Homo sapiens: one gene and its partners. The protein of the gene in region 1 interacts with the protein of each later gene in a pairwise test. Each region holds a gene or a part of one and is shown on either strand. Other genes may lie near its edges.

Evidence for each region. The genes of interacting proteins can lie anywhere in the genome.
Region 2: the proteins of WNK1 (region 1) and CGNL1 interact in a two-hybrid assay, tested with the Homo sapiens proteins (one large-scale study listed by IntAct).
Region 3: the proteins of WNK1 (region 1) and EPB41L2 interact in a two-hybrid assay, tested with the Homo sapiens proteins (one large-scale study listed by IntAct).
Region 4: the proteins of WNK1 (region 1) and CPAP interact in a two-hybrid assay, tested with the Homo sapiens proteins (one large-scale study listed by IntAct).

Annotation. Positions count from the first base shown.
Region 1 is NC_000012.12:884,939-888,694, reverse strand, and holds part of WNK1 (serine/threonine-protein kinase WNK1), read right to left. Parts: coding exon 2,611-3,756; intron 1,475-2,610; coding exon 1,391-1,474; intron 1-1,390. UniProt on the Homo sapiens protein: Serine/threonine-protein kinase component of the WNK1-SPAK/OSR1 kinase cascade, which acts as a key regulator of blood pressure and regulatory volume increase by promoting ion influx.
Region 2 is NC_000015.10:57,379,505-57,383,004, reverse strand, and holds part of CGNL1 (cingulin-like protein 1), read right to left. Parts: intron 1-3,500. UniProt on the Homo sapiens protein: May be involved in anchoring the apical junctional complex, especially tight junctions, to actin-based cytoskeletons.
Region 3 is NC_000006.12:130,958,746-130,962,245, forward strand, and holds part of EPB41L2 (band 4.1-like protein 2), read right to left. Parts: intron 1-3,500. UniProt on the Homo sapiens protein: Required for dynein-dynactin complex and NUMA1 recruitment at the mitotic cell cortex during anaphase.
Region 4 is NC_000013.11:24,905,862-24,909,361, forward strand, and holds part of CPAP (centrosomal P4.1-associated protein), read right to left. Parts: intron 2,266-3,500; coding exon 2,157-2,265; intron 1,333-2,156; coding exon 1,230-1,332; intron 1,100-1,229; coding exon 1-1,099. UniProt on the Homo sapiens protein: Plays an important role in cell division and centrosome function by participating in centriole duplication. Inhibits microtubule nucleation from the centrosome. Involved in the regulation of slow processive growth of centriolar microtubules.

The DNA.
Region 1 (3,756 bases):
CTGTCACTATCACAGGGTATTATTTTCCTCTTTCTTACATGTATACTTCTTCCCTACAGATGGTGGCAAGGAGGTCTGGGTATTCCATCCTGTTAACCATTCCATCCACCGCAAGCACACAGCTTCCTTCTACCCTTCCACAGTCTAATCCTACATCTGTCTTGGCTTCTATCAATCTATTCTTGCACAGTCTTTGCTTAGGCCTTTCCCTCTATCTAGGCACTAGCTATTTACCCTTACCCCTCCACATGTCTCACTTGCTATTTTTTGTCACACTTTATACTCCCTTAGAAATCTGAATCCATGTTTTTAAATGAGAAAATAAGTTTAAAACTAATTTTCTAACTCCTGATTTACGGACTTTCACAATGCACTTTCCCCCAAATGTGGTGGCTGATGGAGTGCTTTCTCTGTTGGGGTTTTTACTTCATTGTGGCAAGTTCCTCAAATAGTGTTCCCCTGTACATTGGGACCAAAGAAATAGGGATAAATTCCAACTCAGCTTCTCAAGTAAGCAATTTACCATGTTTTTCTTATTTCTTATATATGATTCAAAAATAAATTCCTAATTTAGTTTAAAAGTTTACTGGCTTGTCTCATGTCAGAAGATTTTTCCTGGTCACAACAGATTCACAATTAGTACTTTTCTTATGGAAATTCAACAAATGTGTTGGCGGTGGACTGCGGTGGGAAAGAGAAATAATAAATATTACAGGTAATTCTGTCCACCACTGCACTCAAGTGAGCAGAACTGTGTGAGATGGGAATCTCAAGTTCATGAGGCTGGTCTCAGTTCCTCCATGAGTGATCTCATAATGTTAGCATCTCACTGAGCTCGGTGGCTTTTATTTTAAAAGAGACAGCACACATAGTTTTCATGAAACATCACCCCTATACCTACCTATAAGTAAGCTAATTCCTTCATTAGGTGGCTAGTGAAAGAAATGATCAACATTCAAGAAGAGACTGGTTGCTCTGGACTCGCGGAAAAAGTTTCTCAGTTGCCATATTGTGCTTCTCCTTTCTAGGGCACTCTCAAAGTTAATTTTGATTATATACGCAATTTCGCTATTCTACAGAAGTGTGAGTGATAAAGGGAGCTATATGGGTCTGACAAAATGTTTGCTTTGCTGTTTTCTTCCTTCATAAGATATAAAAAAAAAATTAGTATCAAGTGTTTTTGGATAACCGGAAGCAACATTACAAACAAAAGAGCTATGAAGCTTCTTACTTAAGTAGGAACTGGGTCATTGGTTATAACATTTTAAAAGAAAGGTGTTACTAAGTCAAAGACAAATAGGCAAAAGCCAAGACCACGTAGTGGAGAACTTCAGCAAGCTTTGTCAAAGAAAGTAGGGCACAGGAAGAAATTTGTCAAGTCTTGAGGCACCTGGGTTAGAGAAGGTCCTGGAAAAGGTGGCAGCTGCTCGCTGGGTAGAGTACCTGCTGGAAGTTCAGTACCCACTGGCAGCACCTACAGACAACAAAGGGAAAATCAAGTCCGTGAGACGCTAAATATAAAGACTGCGTACTGAAGAGCAAATCAACTAATTTGAATGCACAAACATAAGAATAAAATATATATAGTTAAGACATGTTTATCACTGAGGTTACTCTCTGGTATCTGTCTTAAAAAAACGGTGTGACAACTAATGTTGTTATTATAGGGGTTACTACGATATACCTATAAAATGAATAGTAAAATACAGTAAAAAGTTGTCCCCTAGGGAGAACAGAACAAAGGCTATATGTACATAAGTGGCAGTGTCCAGATATTCTTGAGCTACTTATTTGGTACAGTATGTATCAGACTTTCGCCATGTAAAACAAGATTTTCTGAGAAAAGAAAACAGTAACTGGTTAAGAAATAACCAATGGGCAGGTCTGATAACAAAAGGCATCAGAAATCTAATACTATTATCAAGAATTTCTATTTTATCTGAGTGAAGATTCTGCATTATCCTACTATAAAAAGAACCTCACATCAATGGCAATGCAGAAAGAGGCTGAAGCATACAATACAGTAGACGTAACACAGCCTTGTTATTTGGAGAAGGTGGCAGAACAAGAGGAAATCCACCACAGCATAATTAGATAATAAATTTTAGTTACTTCAGTCCTAGGATTAGATTATTTATTTCTCCTCTGTATCAATTTCCTTACTAACTTCCAATTTTTTATAACCCCCAAACTGTACAACTGTGGAATCTACAACAAAACCAAAAATTTGCTTCATTCTCACTGAAACAAAGACTATGAACTGCTATTATTTACGTACATTTTGCTGACAGATGCATTTAGCTCCCTTTTGGGATACAGACTTCTTCAGTTTGTACCAATTCAGAAGAAATACCTGTATTTTACCCGATAATTATACCATCTTGGAAAACTGTGCAGCATAATTAACCCTAAAATCCTGCCACACTTGAAAAAAAAATCTCATGTTCATTGTAGATATACCCTCAAACTGCTGTCAATTTAATAAATACTATAAGCCAGGTACCTTTATAAATATGTTTCTAACTTACAAGGCTGAAGTGAAAAATGTACTCATTAGGGAGAAAAAAAACTGATCATATTTATCTAATTATTTTATAACAATAATTTTACCGGAGCCTTAGTTAGAGGTGGCTTGGAGGGAGCAGTTCCAGGTTTCACTCCTGATGTAGTAGTGCTGACTGGGGTAGAAACTTGCCCAGGTGTGACCACTGGTGTAACTGGCAAAGCAACTGTTCCTAGTGGTAAATTGGTTGGTGGTAAGCAAGTACTTGTGGTAGAAGTCAGGAGTTTGCTTGGTGCAACAGCAGTAGTTGGGATGCCTGGTGTGACAGTGCTCTCTATGACTAGTGAGGTCTCCAGTGAGACAGAGGCATGCTGAGCTCCAGATGAGCTGTGTTCACTGAACAGAGACCGCAGCTTTTCTTCTAGAGTCTTTATGTCATCAATTCCAGGAGCTTTGGGTTGTGTATCAGAATCTACTTCAGGACAATGAGTATGGGGCTGGTTGGGAAGCAAAGCTGGTTGAGGCTGACTATGAATTAGTGTCTGCTGTACAGCAGGCACATTGGCAACAGGCTGTACCAAGGGTGGGATACTAGGTACTTGGGGTAATAAAGGTGTAGAAGTAGGTCCTGCTGCTTGGGGAAGAATAGGAGTAGAAGCTATCACTGATGGAATGACCAAAGGATGCAGCCCACCAGGCTGAGAAATATAACTAGACACTCCTGCTCCAGGAGAGGAAGAGGAAGATGGTGCAGAGAGGGAGAAAGCCAATCCAGTTGTACTGCTATGAGATGTCTTATCTAGTGAGTGTGCGCTAACTACCACGGTTTCAGCTAAAGTAGGAGTAGAAGTACTGCTGCTAAGCTGAATGCACAGCTGTGAAGCTGTGCTTGGGAATGAAGTGGTGGTAGAAACTGATGTTAATGTGGCTCCCACAGTAGTGCTGCCTGCTGCCTGCTGAGATACTACAGCTGGAGGCTTAGGACCTGGGGTAGCAGTACTGCCCCCTGCAGAGGCTGAAGTTGCTGAAACTGTTACTGAAGGATACAGTGCTGTACTAGAAACAACGATCTCAGATGTGGATGTGGGGACTTGAAGTGACGGGGATGTAGTAGATATTGAGACAACTGCAGGTATTGTGATACTTGAAACTACGCTGGAAAGTACTGGTGATTCAGACACAGGTGGTATGGGGAGACCACCTGAAGTTACCACACCTGTGCTGGTGGCAACTCCAGCAATCCCCTCTTCAGT
Region 2 (3,500 bases), on another chromosome or scaffold:
TTTTTTAATACTGTCAGCTACAAAAGAGTTCAAGGATATATATTAGTTCATAAGATATACTAGAACCTCTTCATGACTTTGAAAACTGGGCCATTTCCTTTTCTTTTGTAATCAAGTCAAAAGAGCCCCATTGTTGAAAGTTTAACAGTCCTAGTTGGAATACCCAAACTCCCAGCCTTAGAGAGGAAGGGGTCCTCACTTGGAAAATGGGACTAACAACACTCCCATCACAGGATTCCTGGATAGTCCTGGTCACAGTCGTTCCTCTTCCCTATGTGGACTATAAATTTGCAAGGGAAAACAGAGGGCCTGTTTTGAATGCAATGAAACACAAAGATAGAAAACTAAGGGAAAAGGTCAAAAACAAGAGAATTCTTGAGGCCAAAACTAGAGGTCATCTTACCTCAATCTTCCAGCAAAGAGATAAGTAACAGGAAAAGATTATTAACAGTCGAGGAGCTTTACAGACCTAACACACTACAAAGCAATCACCTGAACGATTACGTACTCTACCAAAGCAAAGCAGAAATCCCTGTGATTGGGCAGCAGGGAAGAAACCCTGCCCTGTAAACAAAGAGGCTTCTGGCCAGGCTGGCAGAAATATTGCACGTTCATAACAAATGCTCTGTGCACTAATCCCAAACACTCTAACTCCATGACGACCCTCCGCTAACTCCCTGGAAATGTTCCTTGGAGCTGATCCTTCTCGGGTTGAAATATTCAGCTAGTGCTCATTGTAGTAATGAACATTCATTCACTAGCCCTTTTTTAAACTCATCTCTAATTATAACTCCATATGGCCTCTAAGCCCTTACTACCTGTAATTTTAAGAGCTTGAGGTAATTACTATGCAGCAAAGTTTTGTTTTTGTCGCGAGTACCACATAAACAGGAATTGGATGTGCACAGCTTCGTTTTATTCTAGAATGCCCAACGCTGAATTTTGTTTTTAATCTCTTACCCAACAACCAATTATCTACAGAAACTCAGAGGTTTGCAGAACTTGAAGAAGGGTGGAAATCACGTCTCTCTAACCTAGGATGTGGGACCCGTTCAGAGACTTTCTGCACAGCCTAATCTACCCTCTTCTTTAAGACACCTAGAAAAGCAGCAGTCCATAAATTTCCCTTGGGATCACAAGGTCGCAGTGGCCTTTAGCGGAATACTTTCTCTTTAGGTCTGAACTGATTTACTATTTTCCTCTACCTCACGTAGAGGAAAATAGTAAAATTCCTATTTACACGAGGTAGAGGAAAATAGTAAATCAGTTCAGACCTAAGGAGACTGTGATGTTAAAAAATAAACAAGGCACTGAGAACACAATTTCTTAATCAGCTCAGCTTAAGAGGAGCGAGAAACAGTAGAGAGAACTTAGCTTTGTATTCAGACAGACCAGAGTACTCTCGAACTTCAACTCTGCCATTTTATTTTTGTTGTTTGTTTTTAAGACAGGGTCTCACTCTGTGACTCAGGCTGGAGTGCAGTGGCATGATCATGGTTCACCGCAGCCTCAACCTCCTAGGCTCAAGCCATCCTCCCATCTCGACCTCCAGAGTAGCTGGGACCACAGGCACGCACCACCACACCAGGCTAATTTCTGTATTTTTTTGTAGAGGCGGTATTTCAGCATGTTGTCCAGGCTGGTATTGACCTCCTGGGCTCAAGGGATCCACCTGCCTCGGCCTCCCAAAGTGCTGGGATTACAGGCATGAGAACTTTGCCACTGTCAACTACTATGCACCTTTGCAGGATTCAGCACCTCCTTGGGCCTCAGTTTCCTCATATGTAAAATGAGGTCACTGCCACCTGCCTCTCAGGAATGTAAAGGGTTTACAGTAATGAACGAAAAGTGCTGAGCATGCTACCTGGCACTTGAAAGGCAGTCAATAAACAAATAGTAACTATTATAACCATGAGGTTATTAGCCCTATGGGTCAGCTATTTGGAAACCACCTACCCAAGGGAAAAACAGTGTGAAGTCCAGTTTTCAGCCTGCCCAAGGAAGCCTGAGCTACAGCAACCATGGTATGATGAGGAACCAATGTCTGCCCATTGGCAGGAGCCATAGATACAAACCCAACCACTTGCTCCAAAAAGTGCTGCAGCTGCGGCTTTCACACTGCACTTTGCATTCTCCTTTCAGCTCTGTTGCGGAGGTAGCCGCTACTAAGCTTACTTTACCAGTTACTAATGTGCCAAAAATGGATCCAGCCACATTCTCCATGAGCTTCCCACTCCCAGGAAGTACCCCTGTTCAGTAGACTCCAGAAGCAAAAGACACCTGCCAGAATCTGTTCTCTTCCTCCACCTCCCACCTCCCCTTTGCATGATGGATACCTGCACCCTTCTCGCTCCTGGAGTCGGACATTTCCAAAATCAGTCATTTGGGGTACGGGCCTAATAGAATAAGCTTTAATGTAAACCCAAGTAAAGCATGTCTTATGCCTCCTGTGCCAATGAATTGAGGAGGCATCTACCCAGGCGAGGCTAGCCAGGTGCCCCACAGTACCCCACGGGCCACTGTGTTCCTCTTGATTAGAAAAGTTCCTAACTTATTGCAACCCAGGGTTTACATCCCCACCTGACTCAGGCCCCTTAAGGCAGGAACCTTATCCTGTTTACCAACAACTCTGGGTAATACATAGCTTTTGCTAGTAACAGGGGCTACTAACAGCTGGGCACAGTGGCTCATGCCTGTAATCGGAGCACTTTGGGAGGCCGAGGCAGGTGGATCACCTGAGGTCAGGAGTTCGAGACCAGCCTGGCCAACATGGTGAAACCCCATCTCTACTAAAAATACAAAAATAAGCGGGGTATGGTGGCGCATGCCTGTAATTCCAGCTACTCAGGAGGCTGAGGCAGGGAGGATTGCTTTAACCCGGGAGGCGGAGGTTGCAGTGAGCTGAGATCACATCACTGCACTCCAGCCTGGGTGACAGAGCAGAGTCTCAAATAACAAAAACAAAAAGACACCTTAGTGTGAATTTAAGATGAAGCACTATCTCCCCCAAGGATATTGGCTTGAGGGATGCAGGAGGGTGCATGAGGAGAGAAGTACAGGGGGCTGCAATCGGGACACGGGGGACACCAGGCTGAAAACACTAAGCCTTCCCTCCTCGGTAAAGGTCAGTCAACCCTGGTGCTATTTCCATCCCCCACCCCATTCCCTTTTTTTTTCTTTTTTCCTTTTCCATTTTCAGGATTTTCATGTCATAACTGGTTTCTTGATAACAGCAATGTCACATGCCTGAAAAAAGTAAGCACTTGGTCATTCAGAGAAAATTACCCAATTTTTGGTTTCCCCTTGAACTTTGTTTTCCTGCTCTGATGCCAACCTCTCAGCCATGCCACCGCCCTTTAGTGCCGAGATCAGAAGATGAAAAGAAAGGAAAAGCATAAAATCAGTTGGATATTTTTAAAAGGCCAATGGCATCTCTTAGATAAATGGGTTTCACGGGGAAAGAGAGTTAGGAGGCCATTAAATTTCTTTAACTCTCCCTC
Region 3 (3,500 bases), on another chromosome or scaffold:
AAGCTGAACTGGTAATAATGAAGTAAGAAAGGAAGGCAGAAGCCAAAACATAAAAGATTTTGTGTTATTTTAAAGGCAATGTGGGGGTTATTTGAAAAGCAATGAGAAGTTACATAAGTACTTGAAGTAGAGGAGAAATGTAATAAGATTCTCATTTCACTTAGCGCAACCTGGCTGTAAAGCACAGGATGAAAGAAAAGACTGAAGCAGAAAGACATCCAGGAGATTGGGTTGATCTGATCTCTGGTTGATCCAGACCTGAGAAGACGATGGTCTATATATACTACAGCAGAAACAGTAGGGTAAAGAACAAGAAATTAATCTAATGGTAAAGAGGTAGAGTGGATATGACTTGATGTCCGGGCTGAATATAGAAAGTCAAAGAGAGGAAAGAGCTAAGGAAAAGGCCCAGGTCAAGGAAGACTAGGGTGATGGTAGAACCATTCATGGAAATGGGGAACACCTGTAAAAGTGGGTCTGGCTGACACATATAATTCAATTTTGAATTCATTGTGATTGAGAGGTTGTGGAGATGTCTAGATGACCCCAAGACACACAGGTTTTGATTGGAGACTAGATACACACTAGAGATAGGGTTTGGATGTTGTCATCACATGGGGATACATCACCTAGAGAAAAAGGGTAGCTTAAACTGAGAGGATCCTTAAAAGAGCTCTTATCACCATCAACATATAAGGTGAGGCAGAAGAAAAGGCATGAGGGCCAGAAGAAATATGTAGTGAGGCAGGGAGATCAGGAGACAGTAATATCCCTGACAGCAATGCTACGTAAGAGGGAATAGTTAACTATTATACCCACATATTCTTTGCTGCTTCTCATTCTCAGGCATCTGAAATTCAAAAGTATGTCTTCCAGCAAGACCCGAGGACAGGTAAACTGGCTCCATATTGCACAGAAAACCTTTTTTCCTTCTTTAACATACCATTTCCCATGTACTATTTAAGTGGACAATATTATTTACTTTAATCATGAAATAACCAAAGTGTATTTCTAGTATATGCTCTCTAATTACATTCTGAGAGCTGAATAAATGTCCTGGTAAAATTAAAACCAAAATGCCCCATACTTGTCTAAGCTAACCAAGATAAATTGGCAGCTCTCTAATTACTTTGGCTGTGAGAAATAGTCTGGGAACCAATCAACTAAGGCTGATTTTTGGCCAAAATATTTTAGAAGCAGTGAAATATAAAACTTGAGTTTCCACTATTATGTTAAAAGCATTAATAGTTGTTTATATTTTAATCATAAGGGTTTCCACTCACTGTTTACTGTCTGACACAGTGCCCATAATCTGTTTCTCAAAATATTCTACAAAGTATGTATTATCCCTGTTTTACAAATAATAAACAGTAGTCACTTATCCAAAGCCACTAATGGAGAACCACACAGCTGTGTATACCTTCCCTCACACACACTTCATAATGCAATCACAGCTCCATTATGCACGAATGACCTACTCAACCACAGAGTCCTTGGCCTAGTACTCAAAGAAGGTTCCTGCCAGTTAGTGAAAATGACTATGAAATAACATAAATGTATTCTCAGATTTATTCAAAATATTCTCTCTTAAAAGTAAGAAATTTATAGATGAATTTAAATAACAAAGAAAATCCCATTTGTACGTTATTGCTTGACCATGTAATCATAACTGAGCTGGTTGACAGACACTGAAGACAAAGTACAAATACAGACAGGAAGAGCACCGACAAAACCATATGGTTAAGCCTCACGAAGTCATCCTCAATCACCACTGTATTCACAACACCCATAAGGGTTAAGAGCCTCAAAAGTGATGATCAGTGTCACCCATCCAAATGGAAGTTACAAGACAGAAAACAATGGAAAAGACTAATTGGATCATTACTCAACATATTCTTGAAACAGTTTCAAGAGTTCAACAGAGCTCAAAACAAAACACTACCTTCTTTGTTGATAAAATGGCTTCTTGAACAAATTACCACCATCAAGAAAACATGATTACAGTACATCCACTCACCCTAATTATCATGCCTATAACCCTGAGTTTCTTTCATATGTGGATAAGCCTTTAAACTCTATCACCCATGAAAATGAGAACTCTTGTAGTGGAATGCTGACATTCCCACTAAAATGAAAACTCCATGAGGGCTGGGATCTCTCTTTTATATACTGCTATGTTCCCAGCATCTAGACTGGCACATAATAGGTATCTATTAAGTACTTACTAAATGAGTATTGTTCAATCATCTAGTCTAATATCCTCACTTTATTTTATCAACAACCAAACTGAGGATCAGAAAGACCAGGAGATTTGCCTGAGATGGTAAAGTCAGATGGGCAAGCCAAAACTGGAACTAAGGTTTCCCAAACTCTGGCAATGCTCATTGACTAATATTTAATTATAATTACCCAAAATCCATCATTAGTATAGTTATATAATACATTAAGTAATGATCTTTCTACTTATCATCAACTAAAAAGAACACTGCTGTGAACAGCCCGCCCATTAGACAAGCATGTGGTTTTGACACAATTACCATGTTGGCATGCTCCATCTGGGTTGATAAAAGTGTTCGTCATTGTGACAGCTTCATGAGAAAAAGCATGCATCATTTAACATGCAATGAAGCAGAAAACCATCATCAATAGAGGATCAGTACTGGTTAGGTAAGGAGCTGTGTTACATAAACCCATTCTTTTTTTTCCAACGTTTAAAAAAGGAGGTAAATTCTAATGTGCTATCTCTATCACTAGGCTGAACTGCCAACCATATAACATCATGCTACTTAAAACATTGGCCCTTAATCAGAATACTACAGCAAGCAAAGCAAAGCAGATACACAACCTCACAAACACACAAACAACTTCAAGCAAGGGGTTCATGCTAATTCTTGGGTTCAGATGTTTCCTTAAAACATTGAGGAAACTGGGACCTTACTGTTAACAAAACCCCTGAGCAGGGAACAGGGTAGGTGCTGCTGCCAGCTGAGTAGCTCCCATTCTTTGCTGAGATCACAAGCAATATGAGAGTCTTTAATTTCTACCAAGAGAGCTCAACCCATTTTGTAAGGATCCAAGATTCACAAAATGGGAAGGTATGTATTTCTAAGCTTCAAAAATGGTAGCAAGAGGATGGAGGGAGGCTTTCATTTGAGCTTTGAGAAAACAACAAAACTTTGCAACAAATAACCATTGAACTTAAAACATATTGGCAATGTGTAGACAGTTCTGGCCATTTTCTACATCGGATAAAACTAGTTTTCATCTGCTTGTGGGTAGAGGATATGTAGAGCATCCTGCTGATACCCACAATCACGTGCTTGTATGTTCACCTCCCCGAAGGGCCTATAGCTATTGAAAGAGAAGGTCTTTTAATAATGCACTATTTGATGCCATCAAACGTGAGGGAAAAAAAACAAATGTAGAAATGATTCAGCAGCCACCTAACTCTACTTGGGAAATAAAGAGGTGATGCTTCTCAAATATATTCATCATTTAAA
Region 4 (3,500 bases), on another chromosome or scaffold:
TGATGCCCCTCTCTCTATCCTCAGTCGATGGTTTTATGGTAACATCAAGCTGTTCCTCAGAGTCAGTGCTACTGTCACTATTTGGAACACCTTCATCGTCACGTGCATTCCATTCAGTCTGATTTTCAGAAGTGCTCTTTTGGACGGCTTTCCTGATTTTACAAGGCTGTTCCCTCAATTCATCAGCTGAGGACAATGAATGAAGTTGTTTGGGTGCGACTTCACACTCACTCTCCTTCTCACGTGCAGTGTGGTCCAAATCCTCACTGCGGTTACAATGACTAATGGGATCTGCCGGATTTGTCTTCTGTGGCACAGCTTTGACAGGGGTGGAAGACATCCGGTGACCTTTGCAGATCTGTTGATCCCTTTCTAAGATTTTCAGTACAAATGAGGAATTACTAGAAAATGATATTTCATCAGCAGCTTGTTCTAAAAACAAAAATTCATCTAATTCCAAATTTTCCTTTTCCTTTTCTCGTTCCCAAGTCTCTAACTTTTTCTGAAGAGAAACGTCAAGAGAAGATTCAGACTCTTTCATGGTCTCCCTTATGGGGCTCTTAGCAGCCAGCCGGCTGGCCGGCCCTGTTGAAAGAGGAAGTCTGTCTTTACCTTGTGTCTTATTCCACCCTGTGCAGCCAGTATCGCAAGGTTTTGGACACTCAGTTACATTTTCTTTATTATTAGATGTGACTTTGTTTTCAAATTTGATCTGGTCTCTAAACTGCCCATCACATTTCTTCCCCGTCTGTATTTTCAATCCTGACGGAGAAAGACTTTTCCTGTTACTACACTTCAGCATTTTCGGCTTCTGACTGAGGGTGACAGAACCACTCTTGGTTCTAGCTTTACTGTCCTTTTTAAGGATAGGGTTGTCTGCACACAGCTCTTTATTTTTAAGAGCGGTTTTCCGCTGGAGTTGCTGTCTATCCATTTTAAACAGCGGCTGGTCCTCGGAAGTGCTCTGGTTAGTCACTAGTTTACTTTCTTTGCCTTTTTGAAACTTAGATTTGGCATTAGTAAATCTAGCTAAACCTTCTCCTCGTTTTAAAAATGGTTGTTTTGGTTTTGCTTTGATTGGCAATGGTCCTTCTGCTTCCTAAAATAAAAGAATAATATTTGAATTAATTTTGGTATATCCAAGTGATCTCAAAGTTATTTTTAAGGCAAATTATAGATAAATCTCTAAAGCCTTAGAATGATTTAATCAGAAGAGCACAATTGCTGACCTTCAGCTGTTTTTGCTTCAGTTCTTGCTCTTCCAACTGAATTTGTTCTTCTAAGTAATCTTCAAAGGTCTGTTTCCTTTCTCCAATAGCAGCTTTAATGGGCCTAATTAGAAACAGAAAGTTATTTAACATGCAAATCATAATGTGTGAATATTTTACACTTAGTGTGCCTGGTATAGAAACCCTTGACAACATGGAGAACTAACTTTTCCCAAAATCAGTGCCTCCCTTTGAGAACCTAACAAAAGCCACAATCCCTCTCCACACCTTAAAATAAAGAAACATACAACACTCTTCACATGACTTTGGAGTCCTAAGAACCCTTCTGAAGTCCATCTATCGACCACAGATTAACACATGGAGTAACATATTCATCAAATAACTTTAAAATGTATTTCAAAAATAGATCACTAAATATGCATTTTTTTAATTAAGAAAGGCCCTTAATGTGAGAACAATAATCAGAAAAGTCATTTTGTCCATATTATATTAAAAATTTTGAAATAAATTTTTAAAATAATCAACTTACTTAAAATATAAAATACTTAATCTTTGCCATATTTTAAAATTCTGTAACTAAACTGATAATGCAATTATAATTGATAAGTGACACCAAATGGGAGATGTCAATACTTAATTTTTCCCTTCTCCAAAAATAGGATTTAACTATTTGAGAGAAAATTGATTTTATCCAGATGTTTCTCTTAAGTGAAAAAGCTTCGAGAATACAATGTCAAGGCAGCTTGACATATCTCCTCAACCTCTTTTGTTGTTGACAGTACATAATAGGTTGTATCTTTAACCTTAAAAGCATAGTCAAGCAAAAACCAGAAAAATATAGATCTTTCAAACAAAGAAAGTGTTCAATAATAAAGGCTAGCTATTGTACTAAATAGTCACATTTCTCACTTTCAACACGAACAATACCTTTCTTCAATATTAGCCACTTCTGAGGAATCATCATGTTTTTGTAAGTTCTTATCATTTGCTTCCTGAATCTGTTCTGTCACTTTCTCCCAACATAAGATACTTTCTCCTGAGATAAAAATTAAGAACAATTTAGCTCAAGAAAAGCATATTAATGTCTTAAAACATGAGAATTCTACAAGTTACTATGCTAAAACATTTTTTTAATTAAAAGTAATGTATATCACAGATTTTACAACACTCAAGGAATTCTTTAATATAATTAAGAGAAACTACAAAACTCCAATTAAGACACTTGAGGCCGGGTGTGGTGGCTCACACCTGTAATCCCAGCACTTTGGGAGGCCAAGGCGGGAGAATCACTTGAGGCCAGGAATTCGAGCCCAGCCTGGCCAACGTGGCGAAACCCCGTCTCTACAAAAAAAAAAAAAAAAAAAAAAAAAAAAATTAGCCAGGCGTGGTGGCACATGCCTGTAATCCCAGCTACCTGGGAGGCTGAGAGCAAGCAGAGGTTGCAGTAAGCCAAGATGGTGCCACTGGACTCCAACCTAAGTGACAGAGGAAGACCCTGTCTCAAAAATAAAATAAAATAAAATAAAGACACTTGACATTCTTCAAAAGGTTAATGTCATGAGGAAAAAAGTGTGGGGTTTTCTAGAGATTAAAAAGGCTAAAGAGTTGTAAGAATCAAACGTAATACATGAACTTGACTGGATATGCATTAATTTGATTGGATCCTTTAAAAAAAAAGCACCTTTAAAAGATATTTTGGGATAACTGGGGGAATCCCAAAATGGACTTGAATATTAAGGAATTATCATTAATTTCTTTAGATACAATAATAGCACTGTGGTTATACAGATGAATGTCCTAATTTTTGCTTGATGCATACTGAAATATTTGGAATGAAGTAACAAGATACCTGCATATTATTTTCAGTGAAATGGTTCAGCAAATTATACACATATAGAAGTAAAGATAAGGATATACATGTAAAAGATATATATACACATACATACACTGACAAAGTAAATACAGCAAAATATTAACTGCTCAATCTAGGTGGTGGGTATATCAGTAATAACTGCAGTGGTCTTTCAACTTTTCTAGATGTTTGAAATTTTCCAAAATAAAAGGCTATGGAAACATGTTGTATAAAAAAGAAGAAAAACATATTTGAGCTTTCCACACCGATGAATTAACTCTAAATTAGGAACAAGGCATTATGGTTGGGTGCAGTAGCTCAGATCTGCAATCCCAGTACTTTGGGAGGCCAAGGCAGGCAGATCACTTGAGGCCAGGAGTTTGAGACTAGCCTGGCCAACATGTTGAAACCCCATCTCT